2 separate regions of the Homo sapiens genome follow, and region 1 is linked to region 2. Evidence: fine-mapped expression QTL. Tissue or cell type: skeletal muscle. Region 2 holds a variant in brackets; the other region holds the start of a gene. All regions are shown on one strand. Distances are between the middles of the regions.

Region 1 (8,108 bases), 68 kb before region 2:
ATGTGCCCCTTAATTATTTCTGATATGCTTTATATGTGCCTTTATTTTCCAGGTGTTAATTAATGTGTTTTTTTTTTAAAGAAACGCATTTTCTGCTTTTAGAGAAAATGTAGTAAATATACTAACATTCCAGTTTTGATATTTGCTTGCTTTTTTAAAAGTATGTCTAGTTTCTCTAATTAAAATATAAATAGTATTGTACATATCATTGAGGATGACTTTATGGGAAATTATGGGACTAGAGAGTTTTTCTTCTCTCTTATGAGCCTTCGGGATTTGCTTTCGGAAAAAGTAATCAATATTTACTTTCATTCTGCTCACCTCACTTTTCTCCTCAGCTACTCCCTATTGTACCACCTCCACCAGCCCTCCCACTCTTCCACCAAATCATGTAATTTGTGCCAGTGATTGGAAGACATTTGCATACATAATCCCAGGGGGCCTAATATCTACAGATGCTTCCATGGAGATAGTTGTAAATTATGATTATGGAGAGAGTTTTCATTCTTGAAATAATTATCACGAGATAAGCCTCAGAGAGGAAATAATACATAAAGATGTGGCACATATGAGGTGACAATTGGGCTAGAATAACTGGAAGGATTGAATGACAAGTACAAGGGTGATCTGTATTTCAGAAGATGAGGGAGACCTAGGAGTTGCAATGTGTCAGGATATTTTAGGCTGGGAGTCTAGAAGGAAGGTTCCACTTGAAGTATAGGTCTTAAAGAAGTCTAGGAGATTTCTAGAGAAGGGAAAGAACAAAAGCAGAGAAGTGAACTGAAGGGCATGTTTGGGGAACACCAAGTAGTTTCATTTACAGCAGAGTTCAAGAAGAGAAAAAAGTTAAGGAAGAAAAGTAAGTTCAGGGCTATACCGTGAAGATCCTTAAGTATCAGAGTAAACAGTTTGTAATCAGCCTGTGTGGGGAAGGGGTTTGAGGCTCCTTCCTCTCAGGAGGTTGGTATTTTTCATTAACTCTGCCATGTGTCTGTACTGTCTCTCCCCTACAGGTAAGGTCTTTTGTCACATTTATTTTGATTTATAGCACGAATGCTGAAAATTCCAGATTTGTTTAATATATTGGTTTTTGGCTATATATAAATCACTGTGACTATATAGTTCCCTTTACATTTTATGTACTGATGTTTATTTCTGGTACTATATGTAATAAATATTTAAAAAGTTTGCTTCATGCATTATACATATGTCAGTGTGTACATGGTTTCTGTAAGCTGAGTTAGTTTAAGAGTACATTTGCTTAAAGCAGGTAACAAGTCTTCTTTCTACATATTTCAAATTCAATAAATAATTAACACGTTGCCAAATCAGGTCTCATTTTTTCTAATTTGAATTCAGCCATGAATTCATTTCTTGGAACTAAAACACCCTCAACAATCCATCTCTTTCTGTTCCCTTCTGCTTTATCTTACAGATGAGGAAACCAGGGTCATCTCAAAGTCACACAATCAGTTAACTGGCAACGCCAGGGCTAAAGCTGAGTTATCTGGTATCTTTCTACCATACACCTCTTCTTATCTGAAAGTGACTAACAAAAAGCAAAGCACGTGGCCAATGCACATGTACAATTTAAAAAGTTAATTTCATAGACCACATCAAAAGGAACCAGTGAATGTTATAATTTGGATGCAGTGGTTATACTTTTATTTGTTAACAGCATTACATTAGCAGGCATGCAACATTTCTAACAAATCAGTTATTGTTATTACAAGTGGTACCCCCAAGTTCCCCCTAACAAAAACCTGTGGCAGTGTTGGGAACAAAGAGAAAAACACTTCACAACGGGAACATTTTCTATCCTCCATATGGGTACATTATTTTTATTTATAATTGACTGTAAACACCGCTCCCCCCACAAAATTTCTAAGCTCCCCCCAACTGACTGATTGAACACCTCCACCAAGCGGATTCCAAAGAAACTTGAAAAACTAGTTCAGGCCATGCTGGGAAAGGGAAGTCAGACATGCCTCATTATACTTTCCTCTCTTTGGAGTTCAGGCACAACTGACCAGTATTATTATTAAAACAAGAGATCTTCATACCGACATAACAGACTCTTCTTAGCAATAAGATACCAAAATTCCAACATGACTCTAGTATAGCATCACATGAAAGATAGCAGGCCCTAAATCAAAGCATTTTACCCTAAAATAAATTTCTTTGACACTTTTTGAAATGGCCCTACACAGCCATCTCTTGTGGGGAAAATCTACATTCTATAGAGACTCCCTTTCCCTTTCCAGGTCTTTTCCTGATCCAAGAGATATTTAACTAAGAGTCTGGCATCTTTTTACACATGATAAGAGACATTTGCCAATTATTCTCTCTGAAGCCTGTTACGTATGAGACTTCGTCTACATAATAAGAACCTTGGTCTCCACCTTATCTTAACCCAGACACATTCCTTTCTATTGATTCCAGGTCTTTAGGTCACAACTTAACTCTTTCAACCAACTGCCAATCAGAAAATCTTTGAATCCACCTGTAACCTGGAATCCTTCCCCTTTTTGAGTTGTCCCATCTTTATGGACCAAACTAAGTACACCTTCCATATACCAGTTAATGTCCTTATGTCTCCCTAAAACCATATAATCCCAAGCTGTAGCCCAACCACCTTGGGTACATGTTGTCAGGACCCTGTGGGGTTGTGTCATGGGTCACGGTCCTCACCTTGTGCTCAGAATAAACCTCTTCAAACATTTTACGGAGTTTGGCTTTTTTCGTCAACATGAGCCTCTAACAGTTGGTTACTGGATCATCCTGAGGAATCAAGGCCATAGCACTTAAAGACCCATAAATAATCCTACATGATATTCACTGTGTATTCTATGTAGGTGTAATTTCCAAGCTAAAACATAATTAACCCCACTAATAGACACAACAAACATCCTCTGTATTATCAGCACGCACACAGGGCTTTCTCTGCTGCGAGTGGACTTGTGTCCTTACTTATAATTCTGGAATCTTCTCTAGGGGAGAGGCTGGTCTAATTTCTCTCTATTGACCCAGGGCAGGCAGGAAACAAGGCACACTGTGGAAAGAATGTTTGAATGTTCAGGCTTCTAAGTGACAGAAAAGCAGCTTGTCTGAAAAATGATTTTTTTCTGGCTTCTAACCAGTGTTAATTCACTTGGAAACCAAGGCAGTTTTCTCCCCTTTACTGAACTCTGGATTTCTTTTCCAATCAAGGCCCCTGACACCAAAGAAGGAAATGGAGCGTAAATCAGGCTACAGAGTGGCTGCCATTCATTCGGGAAGCCTTATTGTTTTCCGTCCTTTGTTCCCCTCTAGACCCTTGCCAATCCCCAGGCCGCGAGGCCCTCTGAAGCCCTGAGCCTGGAGCGGTAGGAGACGGGGGAACTGAAACGCCGCGGAACCAGAGGCTGAGGGAGCGGCGCGATGGAGGGAGGAGGAGCGACGGACCGGCAGGCCTAGCTCCGGGGCTGCGGCGGCTGAGGCGCGGGGATGGAGCCCCTGCGGGTGCTGGAGCTATACAGCGGCGTGGGCGGCATGCACCACGCGCTGAGAGGTGAGAGTCCATCTAGCACCCCTCTCTCTATTCGCTCACGGGGGCTGGTTGGAGCACCCGCGCCGGGAAGGGGCGGAGCGGCGAGACGCAAGGGGCGGACACTGTGGGGCGGACACTGTGGGGCGGCCCTCGGTTGTCCTGGAAACAGCTCCTGCGCGCCGCCGTGTCCACCCCTCCAGACGCTGACTCCCTTCTCCTGGCGCCGAGTCTGGCTCGAGGGGCCGCACATGGCGCCTCAAAGGGCCCAGTTGGGAGTCGGGATTCGCAAGGCAGTAAATCAACCTCAAAGGGTATCAAAGGGGCGAGACCCTCGCCTGGTGCCAAGCCCCCATTCTAAGTGTGCAGCCACCGAGAAGCATGGAGACTCGGTCCTTCATCCTGGGGGGCTTCCCAGCTGGGGAGGGAGGGAGTGTCAGGGGCTCCCCTGGTGAGAGATGGATCTTGGAAGGGATAATAGCTACAATTCAAGGTAGAAGTTTGCGAATGCTAAATAGGATGGTAGAGGAAGCTTGAAGAACTTGGACGTCTGATCGTTGGAAAGAAACGTGTCTTCTGTAGTTCTGCGTTTAGATGCCAGAGAACTGAGTTCCAGCTTGGTGGCAGTGTGACGTTGGGCTACTTCGTGAACAGTGATGAACCTGTTTCCTGGTTTTAAAAGAGAATGATTATTATAAGGATTAAAGTCTGTCAAGTGCTTGTTAGTGCCTGATACATTGTAACCACTCCAAATATTATACATTATTATCACTATTACTTTAAAACGACATCACGAGATATTATCAAGCAAACTATTACTTTTATGCACGTCTTTGATTTTGAGGTTTTTGATTTCTTTCATGCTGAGTTGGAACTGAAAGTTTTACTTTTGGTGATATTCACTCAAAATTATTTATTGAGCTCCTATTCTGTGCCAGATTTTGTGCTAGGAGCTGGGGATACAGAATGACAAACAGGCTTTGAAGGTGCATGTTTATTCTTAAATTACTAAGACAACCACCGAACTGAAACTTCCCTGCTTCCTTATTTAGGACCAAGAGTAACAAGAGTAACTGTAAGATACAGACAATATTTAATGGGTTTAGCGTATAAGTTTTTTGAGCAGATTTATTGAGTTTCAATTCTAGACTAGGTTAATGATCATTAAGTTTTTAGTACTTGTTTGCCGGCTATCTTTATTTCTCATTTTAAAACTTAGCAGCATCAAAGCAAAACTCTAGTACTATTTACTCTTTGTTAATTCTCTAAAGTGATATAATGTCCGCGTTTTCCCATATCTTGAAACTCCTTAATGAATTGCTTAGTACTTTATCATAAGCTGTAATTCAGCCATTCCTTAAGTGTCGAATATTTAGATCATTCTTCAGTTTTTTTGCAAGTACAGTGTGCTACAGTTACATTCTTGAGCATAATGCCGATTTTCTCTTTAAGCATGTTTACTAACTGTTGGAATTAATTCAACAGTAAGACTTAACTGTGTGCTAGTTACTAAGTGAAAAACAGAATTTTTAAGGCTTTTGAGAGAGAGGATAGCAAATTGCTTTTCAGAGATTTTTGAGTGCCTTAACTACATATTCATCAGGGATATGTATTATCAATTTTTAATCCTTGCTAATTTGTTAGGGGAAATTGTGTAATTTTAAGTGACAGTTTTGGGATTAATGAAAGAGTAAAATATTTTCTCTCCTATTAGCCAATGCAATGTGAATTTGTACACGTTTTTCTATTGCCAGTTCTACTGTTGTGAATCCAAGCTATTAAGTTCTGTAATTTAAATTATTAACATAGCTTCCCAGCTTCTCTCCTTACTTCCATTCTGCCTCCCTACTCCGTTTTCCTTCTAGCAGGCAGCATGATCATTTGCACAGTAAACCAGATCATGTTACTTCGTTGCTTAAATGGTTGCTTTTGAGATTGTAATCACAGTCCCATCTTAACAGGCTTGTGAGTTCTGGCTTCTGTCTTCTCTTCAATTTTATCTGCCACTCTCCCTTCAGCATCCCGCTTCACCGTCAACACCCAAAGCTGAAATTCTAATTAAACGATTCCCTGAATTCTTTCCTCAGCCTTTCTTGTCGAGGCTTACTGTTTTTCTTTCTCTCTACTCCTCAAACCCTCGAAGTTCTTCGATGTTCTGGCCTTTGCTTTTGCTGTTGCCTCATCCAGAGTGCTCCCTAACCCCAGACTTTTTCACTCTAGCTTCGGTTCACATTTCATGTCTTAGTTCATATATTGGCCTTCCCTGGCTGACCCTGTGATCCAAAGCAACTTTCCTGCCTCCCTGTACCTCTCTGCTCTCTCATCTTTTCGGTGGAAATCTGCATATTAGGGATATAGACTCTTAATCATATTGATGCAAATATTTTTCCACACTTGTTTGCCTTCCCATGTTCACTTATTTGATGTACTAAAGTTTAAAATTTACCTGTAATAAAATGCATTGCTCCTTTCCAGGTGGTTTTTAATATAATAATAAAGACTAATAACAGCAGCTAACTTTAGTGTTTATTAGGGATCTTTTAAATTCAGGTCCTTTTTTAAGTATGTAATAAACTAGTTAGCGGTAGAACTGGTATTTTAACCTAGGTCTACCTACCTGACCTTTTAACTATGCTATGTTGCCGTTGTTCTGGTTAGAACTACTAACTTCCTTGGATCTATACATTAAATAATATAATAAGCAGCACAAAAGGAATAATATTGAACTTCATTTTTGACTGATTTCTAGATAAGGTTCATAATGGAATTTTTTTATTGTGGTAAAACACAACATGAAATGTATCATTTAAACTATTTTTAAATGTATAGTTCAATGGCATTAAGTACATTCACAATGTTGTGCAACCATCACCCTTGTTCATTTCTAAAACTTTTTAATCATCTCAAACAGAGCTCTGTACCTGTTAAACAATAACTCCAAATTCCCTTTCCCCCCAGTCCCTGGTAACCTTGATTCTGCTTTGTCTTTATGAACTTGTCTACTCTGCGTACCACACATAAGTAGAATAATACATTTGTCCTTTTGTGTCTGGCTTATTTCACTTAGAATAATGTCTTCAAAGTTCATTTATTTTGTAGCCTGTATCAATATCTCAGTTCTTTTTGTGGTTGAATAATATTCCATTGTATAGCTGTACAATTTTGTGTATCCATTCATCTGTTGATAGACACTTGAGTTGTATCAATTACCTGCTGACCATTGTGAGTAGTGCTGCTTTGGATATTGGTATATAAGTATTGTTTGAGTCCTTACTTTTAAGTTTTGGGGTATAGACCTAGCAGTGGAATTGCTGGATCATATGATAATACTGTGTAACTCTTGAGGAACCACCAGCCTGTTTTCCGCAGCAGCGGCACAATTTTCCATTGCATGAGCACTCCGTTTCCTCTACCTCCATATTCTCCACTTGTTATTCCATTTTTTAAAAATAATAGCCATTCTGATGGATATGAAATCATATCCTATTGTGGTTTTGATTTGCATTTTCTTAATAACTAAAGATGTTGAGCATCTTTTCTTTTTCTTTCTTTTTTTTTTTGAGATGGAGTTTCGCTCTTCTTGCCCAGGCTGGAGTGCAGTGGCGCGATCTCAGTTCACTGCAACCTCCGTCTCCCGGGTTCAAGCGATCTTCCTGCCTCAGCCTCCCGAGCAGCTGGGATTACAAGTCCCTGCCACCATGCCTGGCTAATTTTTTGTATTTTTAGTAGAGATGGGGTTTCACCATGTTGGCCAGGCTGGTCTCGAACTCCTGACCTCAGGTGATCCACCCACCTTGGCCTCCCAAAGTGTTGGGATTACAGGTGTGAGCCACTGTGCCGGGTTGTTGAGGGTCTTTTCATGTGCCTGTTAGTCATTTGTTTTCTTCAATACAGAGAAGTGTCTGTTCAAGGCCTTTGCCCATTTTGGAATTTTCTTTTTGTTATTGAGTTGTAGGCTTTATATATTCTGGATCTTAATGTCTTATTGGATATATGATTTGCAAATATTTTTCCCCACATTACTGAATTTTCAGTTATAAAAAGTATATTTAATTTCTTTAGCAACATGATAGATTTGCCTCAAACCCAGTGAACATTTAAAAAATATGTCAATAAAAGTTTTTCATCCTTATCAGCATATCCAGTATGCTGTTGCATTTTTACAGTCACTACATAGATGCTTCTGTATTTTCTAAATTTCATTTAACTTTATTTATATCTATTTTCCCATGTATTTACATGGCTTAAATGTAACATTCTTTGCTGTTCCTTTCTGTTCCTGTACAGCCTCTAGCACAGTACCACACTCTTTCTAGCTTACTATTGAGGTTACTATTGAATTGATAATCCTTCTGCTATCGTTTTATCAAATGATGAAGGTTTATTTAGCCCAGATTCTTTTTTTGTATTATATGTAGTTCTTAGTTGCAACCCACAGAATCCACTCTAGCTAACATAATCAGGAAAAAAAAAATTAAAAACATTTGGAAACTCACAGAATCTCCAGGACACCCAACAAACAGGTTAGGTGAACAGGAGCACTGCCCACACTATAGTGTGGGTATGGCCACAGTGAAGCTTT
Region 2 (8,094 bases):
CTAAACCAGCAAACAAATGGGAGAAAAACAACTTAGAGAAAACAGAGCCCATACAGGAAACAAGAAAACATCAAAAAGCAACTATCTAAAAATTACTAGATGATGTTACAACTACGAAACAAGAGCAAAAATCAAAAAAGGGGTTTTCAAATTTAAAATGATAGCAACATTTTAAAACAAATTACTAGAAAATTAAAAGATAAATACTTTCTCAGAAAGTATAACAAAACAAGACAAAGAGGTGGAAAATAGAAAATTATTTAAAAATTGGAGAATCAATCTAAGAAAAATGTAGAAATGGAAATGCAGACGCAATGGCAGGGACCACTTGACTCTCGTCATGAGTGAAGGTGTCTTTGTGCTCCTAGGTCACTTTAATGAGTGTACAGATAATTGGCAGGGAGGAGGATCTTTGTAAAATGAAGATTCTAATTCAGCAGGTTGGCAGTAGCACCTGAGATTTTGCATTTCTGACACGCTCCTGAGTGACGCCTGTGCTGGGTCTGTGGACCACACTTGGAGTAGCAAGGTTCTAGTCTACGCCATCTCTACATCTTCCCCACTCCCATCTTAGATGGTTAAACCACTTGCAGAGAGTGAGGCCTGTGAAGCAGCAGAGTGGTTGATATTCCTTAGAGCTCTATGTATCCAAATCTGAACTATCTTTCCTCCAAAATCTTCTTCCCCTGATTATTCTCTTACTCAATTAATGACATCTCTTTCCTTCCAATTCCAATTTTCCAAGCAAGAAACCTCTGTTCTTTTTTTTTTTTTTTTTTTTTTGAGACAGAGTCTCCCTCTGTTGCCCAGGCTGGAGTGCAGTAGTGCATAGTGCAATCATGGTTCACTGCAGCTTCCGCCTCCCAGGTTCAAGTGATTCTCCTGCCTCAGCCTCCTGAGTAGCTGGGACTACAGGTGCCCGCCACCACGCCTAGCTAATTTTTGTATTTTTAGTAGAGACAGGGTTTCACCATGTTGGCCAGGCTGATCTTGAACTCCCGACCTCAAGTGATCTGCCTGCCTCGGCCTCCCAAAGTGTCAGGATTACAGACATGAGCCACTGCACCCGGCCAACTTCCCCCTCTAATAGTTCTAATGAAATATTAACTACCCAAGTATTTCTGTAGCCTGTTTTCTGAATATCTTTCTCACTGTCTCCTCATCTGACTGTCCATTGCCTTAAGGCTCCCCAGGTCACATCTCTTTAAGTGTACTCTAGGCGGGCCGATCATGAGGTCAGGAGTTCGAAACCACCCTGGCCAACATGGTGAAACCCCGTCTCTAATAATAATACAAAAATTAGCCGGGTGTGGTGGTGTGTGCCTGCAATCCCAGCTACTCAGGAGGTGGAGGCAGGAGAATTGCCTGAACCCAGGAGGCAGAGGTTGCAGTAAGCCGAGATCACGCCACTGCACTCCAGCCTGGGTGACAGAGTGAGACTCCATCTGCGGGGGGAAACATGTACTCTAACCTCCTTACCAACTCTGGGTCTCAGACATGGCTCCACAGGGTTGCTTGTAAAATGCAAACATGACCATGTTAATCTCTTCCCTAAGAGACTCTCATAATTCTGCAGTATTAAAAGTAAATAAAATCTAAGCTCATTAAAATGATATTTCAAAGTCCTTCTTGATTTGGCTTCCTGTTCATTTTTAAAACTTCATCTCCCACATATAGACACTGCTGTAGCCCTGCTGAGCTACTTTCTACTGAAAAGCTTTGTATACACCATTACTCTGCCTGAAACTCCTCACTCTACTATTCTACCTGGGAACTACTCAGATGGACTCCTGGGAAGCCTGCATTCCCCTTCCAGGCAGAGTTAATTCTCTCCTCCATTGTTCTCCAATAAAGGTCTCTCTCTCTCTCTCTCTCTCTCTCTCTCCCTCCCCCTCCCCCAACCTCTGTTTTTGTCCTTAGCCATATTCTGATTACCATGACCCCTTCTTAACCTTAAATTCCCCTCATATGAAATTCTAGTATACTGGGATTAACTTTCATGTATGTTTTTGATGACCACAGGAATTTTTATTTGTGAAGTCTGTGGGAATTATTTAAAGGAGGAGCAAAGAACTGAGCATTCAGAATATAAAGGGAGGAGAAGTGAATGTCACAGAAGGAGAAAAGGTTGCACAGAGATATCTTGAAAAACATAAAAAACAGGAGAAAGGAGTAGTTCATTCTGATTCTTACAACCACCTTCAGGTGGTTTTGGAAGGAGGGAGGGAGGGAGAGAAGGGAGCTAAGACTTCAGTGAGAAAGGCTGTGGAGCCAGGATGAGGAAGAAAGAGAAAGGTGAGACCATGCGACAGGACCGGAGCAGAAGTCAGCAGGTCATGAATTATGGATGAGCAGTACACTGAACATTTGGATACCACCCTCATTCCATGTACCATGTATGGTATCAGCAACAATGCAAAATACATTTGCATGTGTCTTGCTGAAGAAGTCAAAGAGAGTAAAGGCTGATGAGTGGAAATCAACAGTACAGCAGACACCATTATAAACTTAAAGTCTACAACATGCCATTAATGTTATCAGTGTTCTGACCTAAGGGTTTTATTTATTTTTTATTATTTTATTTTATTTTTATTTTTTGAGACAGAGTCTCACTCTGTCACCCAGGCTGGAGGGCAGTGGCATGATCTCAGCTCACTGCAAGCTCCGCTTCCCGGGTTCAAGCCATTCTCCTGCCTCAGCCTCCTGAGTAGCTGGTACTACAGGCGCCCACCACCACGCCCAGCTGATTTTTTGTATTTTTAGTACAGACGGGGTTTCACCGTGTTAGCCAGGATGGTCTCCATCTCCTGACCTCGTGATCCACCCGCCTCGGCCTCCCAAAGTGCTGGGATTACAGGTTTGAGCCACCGCGCCGGGCCCTAAGGGTTTTATTTTAATGAATGCGTACAAATGTGCATAAGGGTTCCTTAGGTAAACTCTCCAACTAGGTGCCCTCCTCCAAACACTGAGCAGCCCCCAGAGCAGATCCTCCCTGTCCGAGGGCTCCATTGCTAGCACCCCATATAAAAGCTTCCTCACCCTGGTTACTCAGTTCCACTCAAGGATGATACCGTTTCTTTTGGATTGCCTGCTCTTCAAAACTCTTGGATTTAAATGGAATCTTGCTCTCCACCCACCAATGTGGAGTTGTTCTGTGCTTCCTGGAGTCACCTTGCCTTGTTCTTAGACATCAGTTACCTTTGCCTCACACCTTTAACTCCAGGTCAGCAATCGTCTTCCTCACTCAAAGTCCCCAATTCATCTCTCTGCTCTGAAATCCTCTTTTATAGGAGAAATGATCAGACACCCTTGCTTCTCCTTGTACCCAAGATTATAAAGACAGCTGTGAATTCTTTTTGTCATTTTTTCTTTTAAGGAATCTAAACCCAAGAGAGGATACAGGAGGGTGAGGATTATTATATTTCTTTACATGATATTGATAACAGCTTATATTTAATGAACACTTATTTTGTGCCAGTAACCTAATGTGCTAAACATTTTACATAACTTCAGTGCTGTTATTATCTGTCTGCTGATGAAAAAACAAGGTTCCATGGTCAGTAAGTGATGGAGTCAGACTTTGAACGCACATAAATGAGCTTCAGGCCCGTGTTCTTAACCTTCAACCATGTGGTCTTCCCTAGACTGGAGGCTTCAGAGGGAAGAATCTGCAATTTACTACATTTCGTGTTCCTATCATCTTATAGATGGCTAATATGTAAAGGGCACATGCAGAATATTAGGGGAATGCATTCTAGATTAGGGAAGAGACAGGAGTTTTACTAGTCAATGAAAGATAGAATTTCAGGTCTATAGAATGTTTACCTTGGGAGAGGAGAAGAAGAGAGGTTATCTACCATATAGATCTGAAGGTCATAGATTCTAAAACTACTTTAATTCATCTTTCCTGAAGTATTTCTGAATAGAGTAAGTAAACAGAATGAGTGCCAATCCCTTGGAAACAGCAATTGATTTTTATATTGCTTTTCACAGAGTCAACATATGCAGACAGTCTGACTTGCCTATTGATCTGAGCTAGAGTTGAGTGAATGAGCTGGATGTAAAATTCCCTAACTCATCACTAAAAGTCAGTCAGACCTTGAACGACGGTTACTTTCTTTTTTTTTTCTAACATGGGTGACAATGAGCAATTGAATGCTTAGATTGGGAGCTGAGAGATTATCTTTACTTTGTTGAGTAATAAACACATTAATTAACAAAACAGGAAAATCCTGTCAAAGAGGAAGTCCTTATTAAGATCATGCTGGAGGCCTTTTCTATTGCACTGGAAAGATTAGCTGAGTTCAGTGGTCTTTAAGAAAGTATAATCATGAAAATAGTTACGTCCAGAGCTCAGAGAGTTTGAATTATCCTTTTGATTGGAAGATTCTAGCCCAGACTATTTTATCCTATTCTAAACTTGCCAAAAATTTCATATTGTCAAACTTTCCCTCCACCCCATGCCAAGTTGTTAAGCTTTCAAATAAACAAATTTATTATGATAAATTTCATCTCTATTGATGTAAAGGCTATTGGATATCTTTTCTTAGCATTTAGTTTAATACCAAATTAATATTTTGTATCATCCTGATATATGAAGACATTTACAAATATAGAAGAGAAATAATTTTAATCAGTTTTATTGTGCTGTAATTTACATCTGCCAAAGATTATCTATTTTAACTATACAGCTTTATGAGTTTTGACAAATTTATACAGTCATGCAACCACAATCACAATCATGATACAGAACATTTTCATCACCCTTAAATATTCCCTCATGCCTCCTTGCGATCAATCTCCTCCCCAACCCCTGGCCTCTGATTTGTTGTCTATCAATCAGTGTAGTTTTGGCTTTTTTAGATTTTCATATGGAATCATGTGATATAGAATCACTTAGGAAGTAGTCTTTTGTGTCTTATTGTTGTCCTTGAAAAATATTTTTAAGCAAGCAAAATGACTTGCCACAGGTTGGCAGAAAAATATTTGCAAAATAC[G/A]TATTTGAAAATTCTTGTATCTAGAATATATGAGCTCTTACAATCAATAAAAGACAAACAACAAAATTTTAAAAAATAGGCAAAATATCTAAACAGACAGTTCACCGAAGAAGATAAACAAATGGCAAATATACATAAAAAGATGCCCAACATCTTTGGTCATTAGGGAAATATAAATTAAAATTGTAATGAGATACCTATGTTGACACAAAGACCTGTTCACAAATGTTCATAACAGCTTTATTTATAATAGTCCCAAACTGGAAATAACTCAAGTGTTTATCAACTGATGAGTAGAGAAGCAAACTGTGGGATAGCCATATGATGAAATACTACTCAATAATAAAAGGGAACCAATTAATGATATACACTACAGCACAGATGAATTACAAAAGCATTATGTTGAGTGAAAGAAGCAGATACAAGAGACATATAGAAGAAATTGGGAAGGTTTAAAAAAAATTTTTAAAAGCAGTGACTATTTGAGTATCACAAGTAAAGTTTTTTTTTGTTTTGTTTTGTTTTTGAGACGGCATCTCGCTCTGTCCCCCAGGCTGGAGTGCAGTGGCATGATCTCAGCTCACTGCAAGCTCCGCCTCCCGGGTTCACGCCATTCTCCTGCCTCAGCCTCCCGAGTAGCTGGGACTACAGGCGCCCGCCACTAAGCCCGGCTAATTTTTTGTATTTGTAGTAGAGACGGGGTTTCACCACGTTAGCCAGGATGTTCTCGATCTCCTGACCTCGTGATCCGCCCGCCTCGGCCTCCCAAAGTGCTGGGATTACAGGCGTGAGCCACCGCGCCCGGCATAAGTAAAGAATTATAAGCTATGGTACATAATGATCCTCTCCTCAAAGAGCCTACATAAGTAAGACACAAAATAAGTAAAACACAAACAGGCTTGTCCTGAAAGAGCCTGCATGGGTATTAACCAATGCAATGGTAATTACCTAGAGATTTTTCTTAGAAGTGAAATTTTTACAGCTCTCCCTCAAATTCAGTTTTGTCTGTGTGCTCATGGAAAGTCTGAGTGCATCAATAGTTGATTTTACAATCGAAATGTAGAATATTTTCATCACTCTCAGTGGTTTCTGTAGTCCCAGCACAGAGTGAGTGGGGACATCAGTGCTCCATGTCCTCAAACCATATATCCAGCTGGAAGGGTGTATAGCGCAGTGTGGAAAGTGGGAATGGATTCCACAGCCGTCCATAGGTCCCACAGGGATGATAAAAAGTAAAAAGTACAAATTCTTTGTACATTCTGGATATTAACCCATTTTCATATATATATGATTTGCAAATATTTTCTTCCATTCTGGGAGTTGCTTTTTCACTCTGTTGATGTATTTTTTGATGCACAAACGTTTTTAATTTTGATGTATTCCAATTTATATCTTTTGGTTGTCTGTGTGTTTTTCTTTTTTTGCCCATGCTTTTGGTATCATACTCAAGAAATCATTGCCAAATCCAAAATCCAAGGTCATGAATTTTTGTCCTATTCTTCTGAGTTTTATGTTATAGTTTCAGATTTTTTGAACCATTGTGAGTTAATTTTATAGTTTTAGCTCTTAGATTTAGATCTTTGAACTTTTTTGAGTTAATTTTTGCATATGGTATGAGGTAAGCCTCCAACTTCTTTTGCATGTGGATATCTAGTTTTCCTAGCGCTGGGTAAAGGTGGAACTCCTCTGCAAGGGAGGTGAGGAAGGAGGGGAACAGAGAAAGGTGTAGATAATGACCAGTTTACTTTTGTTGAAACCTAGTTACTTCTTAAGCAAAGATTGTTTAAGTGGATGTTTTCAAAGCTGCTTGTTACTGTTTCAAAGGTCAAATAGATAATGATTAAGTTGCGCATCACTTAAGGTAGATTTTGACCTCTCACAAGTTGAAGAGTACTGAAGATCTAAGATCATTTACATCCCTCTGGAAGAAAAAATAACATAGCCTTCTAGGGCAAAGAAGAAAAAACTCAACAGTTACAGGATATTCCATGGTTCAAAGTACACCTGCCTGGTTTGCTGTTCTCCAAAATCCCATGCTCAGTTGGTTGGAGTGGCCTCACTCTTACCTGCCAACCTGGGAGGTTGATGATGAACATGTCTTTACCTTTTCTTTGGAGTTTGCTTACCTTATTAATATTTGCTGAAGTAAATGGCGAAGCTGGAGAACTTGAGCTGCAGAGACAAAAAAGAAGCATCAATCTCCAACAGTAAGTAAACACATGGGTCATTCCTGCTCAGGGACTAGGCTAATTCCTCACCAGTTTTCCCAAATAGCCAGATAAACAAAGGTGCAATTTTTCTTGAGGAAAATTATGTTGAGAAGCAAACAGGGAAAAACATTTAGACTGAGGTATGAAATTACTTTCCTATGCACAAATTATTATCTGTCATTTTGCAAATAATCTGTTTGCAATTGCCAGGAGGTATCTCTGAGAAATGTGCAGAGAAAAAAGTGGCAGATGAGCAGGGGCAGTTGGGTTGAGATGATCAAAAAGTGAAGATGTATTTGGCCTGTAGTTATTCAGTAAGAAACTTTGTTATTTTGGTTTAAAAATTGTACTTGCTAATTACTGATGCATTCTCTCGTTTGAATTATATAGGCCTCGAATGGCTACAGAGAGAGGAAATTTGGTGTTTCTTACGGGGTCTGCTCAAAACATTGAGTTTAGAACCGGATCCCTGGGAAAAATTAAATTAAATGATGAAGATCTCAGTGAGTGTTTACATCAGGTAATACACTGGAAATATATTGAAGTCATTTTGTATATCCATATACGGTGACTTAATTGAACAAGTCTAGATTAATCTGTACCTTGAATCTTTTTTAATTATTATTTTTTATTAATACATAATTTGATACATTCCTATAATGTGTAAAGTTCAAATCAGGGTAATTGGGATATCCATCACCTTAAATATTTACCTTTTCTTCATGCTAAGAACATATGAATTGTTCTCTTCTAGTTATTTTGAAATGTACAATAGATTAATGTTAACTATAGTCACCCTACTGGTCTATCAAACACTAGGTCTTATTTCTTCTATCTAACTATATATTGTATTCATTAATCAACCTGTCTTCAGCCTCCCTCCCCCT

What was found. PIP is the estimated chance that this variant, and not a neighbour inherited with it, causes the effect.
Region 1: TRDMT1 starts here. The variant in region 2 is fine-mapped to the expression of TRDMT1 in skeletal muscle (GTEx, PIP above 0.99).

Annotation. Positions count from the first base shown.
Region 1 is chr10:17,197,013-17,205,120 of GRCh38, reverse strand. It overlaps TRDMT1 (tRNA aspartic acid methyltransferase 1), which reads left to right and starts at 3,449. Exons shown (of 11, transcript NM_004412.7): 1 at 3,449-3,550. The coding sequence starts at 3,487. RefSeq lists a silencer at 3,752-3,811.
Region 2 is chr10:17,128,754-17,136,847 of GRCh38, reverse strand. It overlaps CUBN (cubilin), which reads left to right and starts at 7,037. Exons shown (of 67, transcript NM_001081.4): 1 at 7,037-7,204; 2 at 7,598-7,727. The coding sequence starts at 7,083. The variant G/A (reference allele first, on the strand shown) is at 4,998.